Linked DNA regions of Homo sapiens. Changing the gene in region 1 together with any one later gene gives a genetic interaction. Each region holds a gene or a part of one and is shown on either strand. Other genes may lie near its edges.

Region 1 (3,648 bases):
GGGCTGCCCGGCAGGCCGGACCCTTCAACCAGGCAGGGGGTGGTGGGGGGCGTAAGAGGCGGGGACAGGGGGGTGGAGGGGGTGAGGAAGGTCCAGGTGGCAGGGATAGGTGGGGAGTGGCAGCGGGAGCCCCCAAGAACGGTTTCCGACTGCTGTGTGCCGAGGGCCCCAGGCGGCCATGGTGAGAGACCTCCAGCGCGGGAGTTTGGTAATGGTCAGCGCCGGGCTGCAAGTGTAGAAGCAGGTGGTAGGAGCATTGCTCGGGCTGCCTCAAGACAAGCTCCACCCATCCCCCCCTCCACCCTCAGTTGTCACTCACAATGCCTGGGTTCGGCTCCACGCCCCGGAGACCAGTGTTGCTGCTGCTGCTACTGCTGCTGCTGGTGGTGGTGCCGGGGAGGCCAGGGGGCCGGGAAGGGGCGTAAGGCACGCAGGCGGTGGTTGCTGCTGGTGAAACGCTGGAGTCCATCCGCGACCTCTGAACTCTGCTCTCTCTAAGGTCACTTCCGGGGGGACGGGTGGCAGGCAGGCAGCCATGGCTCTCTGCTCCTGGGGGGCGGGGGCCTGGGCCTGGGGGAGCAGCCGGGACCAGCCGGTGGCCAGGGGGGTGCGCGGTGTACGCTGGAGCTGGGTATGGATATGGGTGAGGCAGCGAGTGCCGCTGCTCCTATAGGAGATAAACAGGGATGCAGGATGAGGAATAGAGAGCGTGGGACTTGTAGGTGAGAGGTGAAAGGCAACAGGCAGGGGCTCACCTGGCGCTCTGGGGGTGCTGAACCCTTGCGCTCTGGGCCCCAGGCATCTCCATGCAGGGTACTCCACAGCCCTGGCTTGGTTAGCTGAAATGGGGGGCTGGTAGCCAGGCCAGGCAGGGGTGGTGGTGGTGGTGGTGGTGGTGGTGGTGGTGGTGGTAATGGTGGTGGAGGCAGTGGCAGCCCTGGGGGAAGGCCAGTCTAGGAGAGAAGAGAGTGTGAGAATCCCATTCCCAAGTCCTGCCTACTTACTGCCTGCTGGCCCCCCTATACCCACACCTGTTCAGAGTTGCAGCCTCTCCTTCGCTTGCCTCCAGGGCTGAGGCCCTCCTCCCCTGAGGGGCCTGAGAGTGCTGCAGGAGGCACAGGCTGCACCACTGGGGGTTCAGCAGCTCGCTTCACCGGGGGACCTCCCCGCTTGGCTCCATAGTTCCGTTTGTGCTGAGAACAAAAAGAGAGAAGAGAAAATGGCACGGGTGCAGGCACAGCCTGGCTCTCCTCCCTAACCCACCCAGTGCCAGCCTCACCTCAAGGTGTAGCAAGTTCCACACTTGCTCCAGTGGGGGCAGGACCTTGGCTCGGTGCTGGCAGGAGCCAGTATGAAAGTTCCAGAGCTGGGCCTGGGGGTGGGGGGACACGGGGCAGGGGCAGATGTCAGGTGGGGCACTGAGCCAGAAGGCACAATCGTACAATCCCGTCCCCCACGCCCTGCCTTCTCCTACCTGCTGCAGTCGGCCAATGCGGGGCCCCAGCTCAGCGAAGCTTCCTCCGTATCGAAGGGCGCTGTGGTAGCAGCGTGTGGCCTCCTCACTATCGTGCTCTGACTCGTACAGTTGCCCAAGCTGTTCCCAAAGCCCTGGCTGGGCTGGCTCCCGGAGCAATGCCTGCACACAGCCATGCAGGGATTCCAGCTTCCCATGGAGGGGTCTTGGAGTGGGCGCCCTACAGAGCAGAAGGGGTGGGGGTGTGGGTGGGGGTTGGGCTTGAGGGGACTCTTTCAAGGCCCCAGCCTTACCTCCCACTCCCAGAACCTTCAAATATCCACTCACCCTGGAGCATAATATGGTTTGCTGGGGTGCCCAGAACTACTGCCATGTGAAGGGGGTAGGGGAGCAGGAAGCGGGGGCTGCCCAATGCTGGCTGAGCATCTGGAGAGAGAAGGAGTCTGTTATATACGGCAAAAAGGAGCAGTCTTGTCCTACCTAGGCAGGAGGGGGCTGATGCACGGAAGCCCACAGAATGACAGGAACCCATGGAGAATGACACAGATTGAGGGATACAGAGATGGAAAGAGGTGTGCCTGGAGACAGAGGGCCCCAACTTCTCACCTGCCTCCAGGCAGCCATGCGCTACGAGGAGGGGGATGAGGCGGGCAGGAGCTCCAGGCCCCAGCACAGCTCAGGCCCCCAAGGGCAAAGGCTTCCCGTGCAGCGCGGGCCCCTGGAGGGTCCACTGCCCGATGCATCCAGCCTGAGTTGGGGATAAGAAATTATGCTCTTACTGGAGGCAAAACCAGAGCTGCCAGTGTACATCCAGCCAGCTCGGCCCCAGAGTTTCCCTTACCAGGTCAGCAGTGGCCCCAGGAGCCCTGGAGATTGGGCACGGCCCCCTGCCCCAGCTCTCTGGGACGATGGTCCGGCTCCAGCCGCTCTGATAAGAGTGCCCGCTACCCCCAGATGGCTGCCTCAGTCCTTTCACAGCCAATTCTAGAGAGAAGGAAAAGGAGTGAGACGAGCTGGCCAGCACACAGTCAAGGCCCAGGGGCTGGGATGGGCGGACTGTGGCATCCACCAATTTGTCATTTGTGCAAAGGGCCCGGCCTTAGCTTTCCCCAAAGGGAGGCCCGGCCCAACCACTCCCTAGAGGCCCAGGAGTGTGGCTGGGAGTCAGGACGTGTGTGGCAGGGAACCAAAAGGCCGGTCAGAGGGACGGGGTGGCTGCGCTGCCAGGCTTCCAGTCCGGAGCCACTGGGCCGACCCAAAACGCAGCGGCCGCTTACCCGGCCTCCGTGGGAGCGTCCTCACACCGCGTCGGCAAGCTCCAGAGATCTGGCCAATCACAGGACTTCCTCTCTCCCCAGAAAGCCAATCATCACCCGTGTCTCCGCCTCAGTAACAGCCTGGCCGGAACCAATGGGAGCGAGGTGAGCCCGGCAGCGGTGGCCGGGGGAGGAGGGGCGCGGGAGCCGGTCAGACGAGCTCAGCCCGGGGTGACCCCGATGTGACCCCGCGGCTCCCACCTAGGGTCCCCATCTAGGATCCGACACTCCGGCCGTCAGGGCCAGAAGGCAGCCAGGACAAGACGCATGCGGATGAGGCCGGTTAGTCGCATGCTCCGGCCGGCGTGGGGGCCGGCGCTACCCGCAAGCCTCAAGCACCCAGAGCCGCCGGTGGCCACGGCCAGGCTGCTCGAGTAGCCCCACGCCCGGCCACCGTAAGACCGACGGACGACAGACGGATGCAGAACGCAAAAAAGACGTCCCTCCCCTTCCTCACTTCACCTCGCCCAGTGACAGACCTCCCTACCCCGAGCGCCCCTATTAACTGCTTAGGGCTGGCCAGCCACAGCGACTTCCACGGCACCCAAACCCGTCCGCGCCGCTATCGGCGCTCCACCCCCAACGCCTGACCCCGACCCAAACCTTGGTCAAGCCCCCAGTCTCATACCCAGTTCCTCCAGGTCCTCTACTTCCCCTGGCTTTCTGGGTCTTCAATACCGACCGACCCCCAAAATCAGACCCCTTTTAGTCCCCCAACTTCCGAGAAGTCGCGCACCGCGGTCCCGAGTGGCCCCTCTCTCGTGGCTCGCGTATCCTCTCTGCCCTTCCCCGCCGGGGCCACGCGGTTCCCCACGGCCCACGTGGCCCCCGCCCCCCAAGGGAGGGGGGATTTCGGGG
Region 2 (3,571 bases), on another chromosome or scaffold:
GCTAGGGGAATTGTCACAACCTGAAAAGTTAAATCTGTACCTGTCAGATTGAATAGGCTGAAGGTGGTTGCTAAGGAACAAGGATTCTAAATGATTAGGGTTACACTTCTAAAAAAAGCAGGCCTTGTCTTTTATGTCTGTGTTTTGTGTTAGAGTGCATTTAGAGATTTTTGTTCTCTGCTTTCAAGTTAGAAGTTAGTTCATCTGATCATCTCCCAGCATATATCTGTTTTTATTGCCTTGAGAATCTGAGCACTTCAGACGTTCATGTATCCTTGGCCCTGAGTGACCATGTTCTGAGTGAGTTGCTAAGTTTGGTTTTGTCCACTGTCATGTAGCAAGTGGTCCTACTTGTTACTAGCAAGGGTTGCAGGGATTTGGAAGATTCTAGGTTTCCCCTGTAGTTGGCAGGTTTTTTTTTCAGCAAGGGCTATGTGTGGAAATTCTAGGCAACTAGAAAGATGAGTCGTGTTCAGTTTTAAAATTGTTTGGCACTGAGGCTGCCGGTTGCAACTCAGGTGTCTTTGGCTGATATTCTTCAGTCATTCATGAGTCTTGGATATGAACATTCGTAACCTGTTAGCTGGCCCCAAGTATGTCTTTAACAAGCATTTGTTTGAATCAAAGTGTTTCTGGCTAAGGATCATTTGGCTCTTCCAGAAAACCGGCTTGGTCACCATATTGTTCTTTTGATATTGTCACTCTGAGTCTCTGCTTTACCAGTTACTGGATCAAGGATAAACAAGTCTAATCTGCAGCTGTCTTTGGGACTGTTTCGTAAGTCAGATTAAGTAAAGGCAGGTTTCTAATAACTTTAAAACAAGTTCATTTATAAGGATACTGAGCCTACTTATGTTTAAAAATCTAGACTAAAATATTGTTTAAATACAGTATTTACAAACTTATGCAGAGCCTGTCAGTCATGGTTTATGGGAACTGACATCACATTTTCTTCGTCATTCTTCTGTTGGTTCATTCAGCTGAAGTCTTTGATACTACTAGTCGTCTTCTGCCAATGGGGGCACTTAAGTTGAAGAAGGCCTGACATTTATGAACTGCCAACACTGTTTAGAGGAAAAAAATGGCTTATTGGGCCTTAGCATGTTACTGAGTTGCATAATATTTTGAATGTATTCTAGGTATCAGAAGAGCAAGGTCAAGAAAACCCAGCAGACCACGATCCTATTCATGATCAAAGCTGGTATTTAGACCGATCATTAAGAAAACGTCTTCATCAAGAGTATGGAGTTCAAGGCTGGGCTATTGTACAGTTTCTTGGGGATGTGGTGTTTATCCCGGCAGGAGCTCCACATCAGGCAAGAATCATTACTTTTTCTTTAATCTCTTTATGTCATGAACTTTTGGGTTTGTTACTGATATATTACTTGGTGTTTTTCAGGTTCATAACTTATATAGCTGCATCAAAGTGGCTGAAGATTTTGTTTCTCCAGAGCATGTTAAACACTGCTTCTGGCTTACTCAGGAATTCCGATATCTGTCACAGACTCATACCAATCACGAAGATAAATTACAGGTAAAAATAGCACCAATTCCTAGCATTCTTTGGCTATGGCTATGGCTTCATGGCCCATTCTTCACCTTATAAAGAGAGTCAGTGAACTTGGCCATATCGTACTTAGTACACAGTGAGTCGAGGAACTTGCTTTATATCTAGTACTACTATCTACTTAAGTGAGGGAGGAACAAGAGGAAATCTCACCTTGGTTTGATTTGATATTGTTTAGAATCTATAAGGGACTGTCCCCACAGAGAAAGGCCTTAGTACTGAAAATGAATAGATGTGACTTCTGATCTTGGCCCAGCTGCCTGTCGGGGTCTTGAACACAGTGCTTAACCTTCAGTGCTGCAGTGTTCTCATCACTCTTAGGTAGAGCAGAACTGAATCTCTGAGACTCAAAGAGGTCTGAGGGGGTGGTATTTTCAAAAGGATTTCAGTAATGAATTATGTAACATAATTTCATGTTTGGAAAATAAGGGAAAAATGATAAAAGCTGTACCTTGGAACTTGCCTCTCCCTGTACTCACTGTGAGTAGGTCTACGTGGTATCAAAACCTCTAAAAGGGGGAAAATGAGTTCTTGAAATCATGGGTTTAAAATGTATGTGAAATACTGGTCTGAAGGAGCCCAGGGACCTTTTGCAATGTTGACATTTCATACGAATATTGAATTTTAAATTCTGAGAGAAGGTAATAAAATTAGTAGGAGGAAGCTTATTCTTAGTGACAGGTTTTAGATTTAAATGTAAAATGCCCATATTTTCTCCTACTATTTTTAGGTGAAGAATGTTATCTACCATGCAGTGAAAGATGCAGTTGCTATGCTGAAAGCCAGTGAATCCAGTTTTGGCAAACCTTAATCTCCCTGCACATTGGAAATGAATTACAGGCAGCTGTTCAAACTCTTCAGGCAGGATTCCTGTGGACTTTGAGATTCATGTTACCTCATCTTCTTTTTTAAACTGTACCCAACTTGTGAGGGTACTCTGTCTAATGTATATTTCTAGTGTTTACAGACAGTAAATGTGTATATGTAGTAACTATTTACAGAACATGCATCCTTAAACTGTGACTTCTCACCTAGTGCAGAACTTTTACCAGGCTGTAAAAGCAAAACCTCGTATCAGCTCTGGAACAATACCTGCAGTTATTCTTCAGCTGTTTGGACAACTTAGATTGGGTTTATAACTATTAGGAATCACTGCACAGTTTATTTGGGTTGTGTTTTGTGTCTGAGTCCCCTCCCTCATCCCTTAGGGTCCAGAAGAGCAATGGAGGAAGTGACAGCTAATGTTGCAGTTCTTATTGTATGGCATAGGACTGGCATTATATAGCAGAAATCAACTACTGTACAATTTCTTGGGGTTAACCATCTTTAGTTAAATGGAATTTTAATTTAAATGACGCTTTGCTAATTTTAAGTGTTAAGCATTTTGCATTAAAATATTCATATAATATTTTGGCTCAGTTTATTGGCATTATCCTCTCATTGTGGTTTCAACACAACTTTCTTCAAATGCAGGTGTAATGGATTGCTCCAAGAACTCTTCTTAAAAGCAAAGAAATCAGATGCTATAGTGATTTTCTTAGTGATTATTACAAAGCTAACATGGAAATTTCTGCTCAGCCAGGTAGAAACCCTGTCACACTTTGTCAAGGAAACACCACCAATTAATTAAATTTAGAAACAGGAATTAACCAAGAAACCAAATAGTGCCAGGCTAAATGGTTCTAAAAAGGTAAGTAATGAAACACTTTGTTTTATGGCCCTTCATAATGTTAAGTTTATGAAGGAAAATGAAATTATAAGTTCTAGGACAGTACTACCTAAAATATTCATCTCTGTGAAGGAAAAAAATTCACAAAGAAGCGCCTTTCTTTAGCCCACTGATTCTCCTAGGCCACTCTTTCATTTAATTTCTTTAAAAAAAGGAATTAAACATAGAAATCAGATAGTACATAGACAAAGCCTAGAACCTGAGTTTTAATTTGTGAGCTGAGTAGGAGGCCAGAGGATCCGTATTAAATTTCAGAACCCATTGTCAAATCTAAG
Region 3 (3,648 bases), on another chromosome or scaffold:
CATAGTAAAACACTGTCTCACAAACAAACAAAGACCAAAAACAGGCTGGGCACAGTGGCTCATGCCTGTAATCCCAGCACTTTGGGAGACCAAGGCGGGCGGATCACCTGAGGTCGGGAGTTCGAGACCAGCCTGACCAACATGGAGAAACCCTGTCTCTACTAAAAATACAAAATTAGCCAGGTGTGGTGGCGCATGCATGCCTGTAATCCCAGCTGCTCGGGAGGCTGAGGCAGGAGAATCACTTGAACCTGGGAGGCGGAGGTTGCCATGAGCCGAGATCGTGCCATTGCATTCCAGCCTGGGCAACAAGAGCTAAACTCTGTCTCAAAAAAAAAAAAAGAAAAAAAACCACACACACACAGATGGGCTATTCTGGGGAGCAGCTAGCAGTTTAGTGCAGCTGGAGTGTGGTACAAAAGTACTATGGTAAGAGAGGCTGCCGAAAGCATACGCGGGGTCATTTTGTAAAGGGTGGTAGCAAAATGCAGGAAGAGGAACATGAGTTTAAGTCCAAGCTTTGCCACTTCTTTACTCTCTTGGCCAAGTTACTTCTCTGAGCCTTAATATAAAATAATATATACTTCAATATAGTAATACATTATCTCACAGTATAATACAATTATCTTAGAATTGTTTGATGATTAAATGTAATACAGTATCTGGTGCAGAATTAGGGCTTAAAATATTTACTTTTTTTTCTTTTTTTTTTTTTGAGACAGAGTCTCGCTCTGTTTCCCAGGCTAAAGTGCAGTGGCACGATCTCTGCTCACTGCAAGCTCCGCCTCCTGGGTTCACGCCATTCTCCCGCCTCAGCCTCTTGAGTAGCTGGGACTACAGGTGCCCGCTGCCACGCCCGGCTAATTTTTTGTATTTTTAATAGAGACGGGGTTTCACCGTGTTAGCCAGGATGATCTTGATCTCCTGACCTTGTGATCCGCCCGCCTCGGCCTCCCAAAGAGCTGGGATTACAGGCGTGAGCCACTGCACCTGCCCAGGTCTTAAAATATTTCTAAACATTTTGGACATTATTTTCTTGTTTTATTGTTCAGATGGAGTCTTACTCTGTTGCCTTGGCTGGAGTGCAGTGGCGCAGTCTCGGCTCACTGCAATCTCTGCCTCCCAGGTTCAAGGGATTCTCTTGCCTCAGCCTCTTAGGTAACTGGGATTACAGGCATCTGCCACCACACCTGGCTAATATTTGTGTTTTTAGTAGAGACTTGGTTTCACCTGTTGGCCAGGCTGGTCTTGAACTTCTGACCTCAGGTGATCCACCTGCCTCTGCCTCCCAAAGTGCTGGGATTACAGGTGTGAGCCACAGTGTCAGGCCTGGACGTTATTTTCTGAGTGATATATTAAACAGGAGAGAAAGAGGATTGGATTGCATTTTGGAACACTCACTGAGAGCGGTGTGGAGAGGAGAGCATTTGGGGATATTGTAGTCCCAGAGCTGCATAGTCCCAGAGGAGACAGCTCGGGGGAACTTGAGTTTGGTAACTCACTGGATATGATGGAGGGAGAGAGAAGATTCAAGAAGCACCAAGACTTCTGGTTAGAATGACAAAGTGGATGGGGCCTGCAAGGGAGGAATGGGTGGTGTGGGGAGGGGAACACGATGGAGATTAGGCGTTTAGGTTTGGACATCCACATAGAGATGCCAATGGCAGATAGAATTTTGGGTCTGGAGACAGAATTTGTAGTTGTTGGAACTGAAACTGGGAGAGGTTGCAGTCTCTCAAGGGGGTGTGGAATGTGAAAGGTAGAGGGCTGAAGAAGGAATCCCGGAATAGCTGAGGAGGCAAAGAAGGGCAAGGGAGATAGCCAGCATGGAAAGGAAGAAAGAGGGAGTGTGTCTAGCAAGGTCAGAGGCACTGGGAAGTCCCAGATACTGATGACTGACATCAGCTGCAGGAGTGAGCTGGTGGTGGTTACCGAGAGTGATGTCAGTGGAGTGGTGGGCAGTAAGTGTGAAGAGGCCAGGAAGGTGGTGAGTGAGATGCCTTTTAAATAGTGAGCAGAGGTAGAAAGGACTACATTTCAGCTAAGCATCCATAGCTGGCTTCAGATATAAAACCTTGATGTGCCATTAAAAAAAAAAAAAAAAGAACCCCCTTCTTTCAGTGCACCGCTCTTCAAAGTGTGGAATGTGGACCACCTGTGGCACAATTGCCTGGAGCACATTAGCCCAGCCTTCTCAATAAGAGTGAGAGTGTGTGTGTGTGTGTGTGTGTGTGTGTGTTCTGGGACTCTGCATTTCAGGTAAGCTTTCTAGTGATTCTAGTGTTGACCCAAGGCTGGAGGGCCTCTGTTTTAATGTGAGCTCCTTAGCTGTCCCCTTGAATTCCCAGAAAGCGTGGCAGGGCCTGCCTAGTTCTGGGTGCTCATCCCGACCCCGCCTGAGGGTTTTCAGTGTGTGAATTACTGCAGTAGGAAATATGGAGAAGTGATTCTCCTCCCTTTACTACGGTATTGGTGAACTCTTTAGTTTTCCCTGATGATGTTAAGTGAACGTGCCCAGTGGGGTACCTGTCACATATACAGTGGGTGTATGTGAGTGCTTCTCTTTCCCCGGCTGCTCTCCCTAATACCGCATCAGTGGTTATCTCCAGGCAGAGATGTAGGCCAGGTTAGGTCAAGTATTAGGCAGATTGAGTCTGAGTTTTTCCTGAGGAGGAAAATGTGTAGTGTATAGCAAGATCAAGATGCTAGTGGCTGTGGAATTACTGTGACAGGGCTAACTGCCGAGACCAGCTCGGTCGTGGAGACCCTAACCCAGTGGCGCTAGAGGAATTAAAGACACACACACAGAAATATAGAGTGCAGAGTGGGAATTGGGGGGCTGACAGCCTTCAGAGCTGACAGCCACGAACAGAACTTTACCTACATATTTATTGACAGCAAGCCAGTGATAAGCATTGTTCCTATAGATTATAGATTAAAACGGGAAACAAAGGGATGGGCTCTGGCTAGTTATTTGCAGCAGGAACATGTCCTTAAGGCACAGATCACTCATGCTATTGTTTGTGGTTCAGGAACGCCTTAAGCGAAAGCCGCCCTGGGTGGGCCAGGTATTCCTTGCCCTCATTCCAGTAAACCCACGACCTTCAGTGTGGGCATCATAGCCATCAACGAGCATGTCACAGTGCTGCAGAGATTTGTTTATGACCAGTTTTGGGGCCTGTTTTTGGCCAGATTTGGGGGCCTGTTCCCAGCAGCTAACTACTGGAGCATTTTTAGGTCTGAGAACATCTTTCTCTGAGACTTTTTTCTGCAGCACTAGAGAATAACAGCTTGAAACTCTATTAAAATAAAGTGGCCAGGTGCAGCGACGGATGCTTGTATTGTAGTTCTGCTGAGGCAAGAGGATCTCTTGAGCTAAGGAGTTCAAGGCTGCAGTGCCCAATGATTGAGGCTGTTCATAGCCACTGCACTACAGCCTGGGTGACATAACGAGACCCTGTTTCTAAAAATAAACAAAAAAATAGGCCAGGCGCAGTAGCTCACACCTGTAATCCCAGCACTTTAGGAGGCCAAGGTGGGCGGATCAGTTGAGGTCAGGAGTTCGAGAACAGCCTGGCCAACATAGTGAAACCCCATCTCTAATGTAAATACAAAAATTAGCCAGGCGTGGTGGTGAGCACCTGTAAT

Evidence for each region.
Region 2: changes in KDM6B (region 1) and KDM3A together harm fitness more than expected from each alone (negative genetic interaction), as found in Homo sapiens cells (one large-scale study listed by BioGRID).
Region 3: changes in KDM6B (region 1) and PRMT7 together harm fitness more than expected from each alone (negative genetic interaction), as found in Homo sapiens cells (one large-scale study listed by BioGRID).

The regions. Positions count from the first base shown.
Region 1 is NC_000017.11:7,844,124-7,847,771, reverse strand, and holds part of KDM6B (lysine-specific demethylase 6B), read right to left. Parts: intron 2,896-3,648; coding exon of another isoform or gene 2,833-2,895; 5' UTR 2,752-2,832; intron 2,459-2,751; 5' UTR 2,319-2,458; coding exon of another isoform or gene 2,244-2,318; intron 2,223-2,243; 5' UTR 2,218-2,222; coding exon 2,081-2,217; intron 1,901-2,080; coding exon 1,802-1,900; intron 1,695-1,801; coding exon 1,475-1,694; intron 1,373-1,474; coding exon 1,280-1,372; intron 1,194-1,279; coding exon 1,032-1,193; intron 954-1,031; coding exon 756-953; intron 668-755; coding exon 320-667; intron 227-319; coding exon 1-226. Other genes in the region: translation initiation factor IF-2, read left to right, coding at 2,244-2,318, 2,833-2,895. UniProt on the Homo sapiens protein: Histone demethylase that specifically demethylates 'Lys-27' of histone H3, thereby playing a central role in histone code. Demethylates trimethylated and dimethylated H3 'Lys-27'.
Region 2 is NC_000002.12:86,489,742-86,493,312, forward strand, and holds the end of KDM3A (lysine-specific demethylase 3A), read left to right. Parts: intron 1-1,139; coding exon 1,140-1,316; intron 1,317-1,399; coding exon 1,400-1,534; intron 1,535-2,297; coding exon 2,298-2,378; 3' UTR 2,379-2,975; downstream 2,976-3,571. UniProt on the Homo sapiens protein: Histone demethylase that specifically demethylates 'Lys-9' of histone H3, thereby playing a central role in histone code.
Region 3 is NC_000016.10:68,317,503-68,321,150, forward strand, and holds part of PRMT7 (protein arginine N-methyltransferase 7), read left to right. Parts: intron 1-3,648. UniProt on the Homo sapiens protein: Arginine methyltransferase that can both catalyze the formation of omega-N monomethylarginine (MMA) and symmetrical dimethylarginine (sDMA), with a preference for the formation of MMA.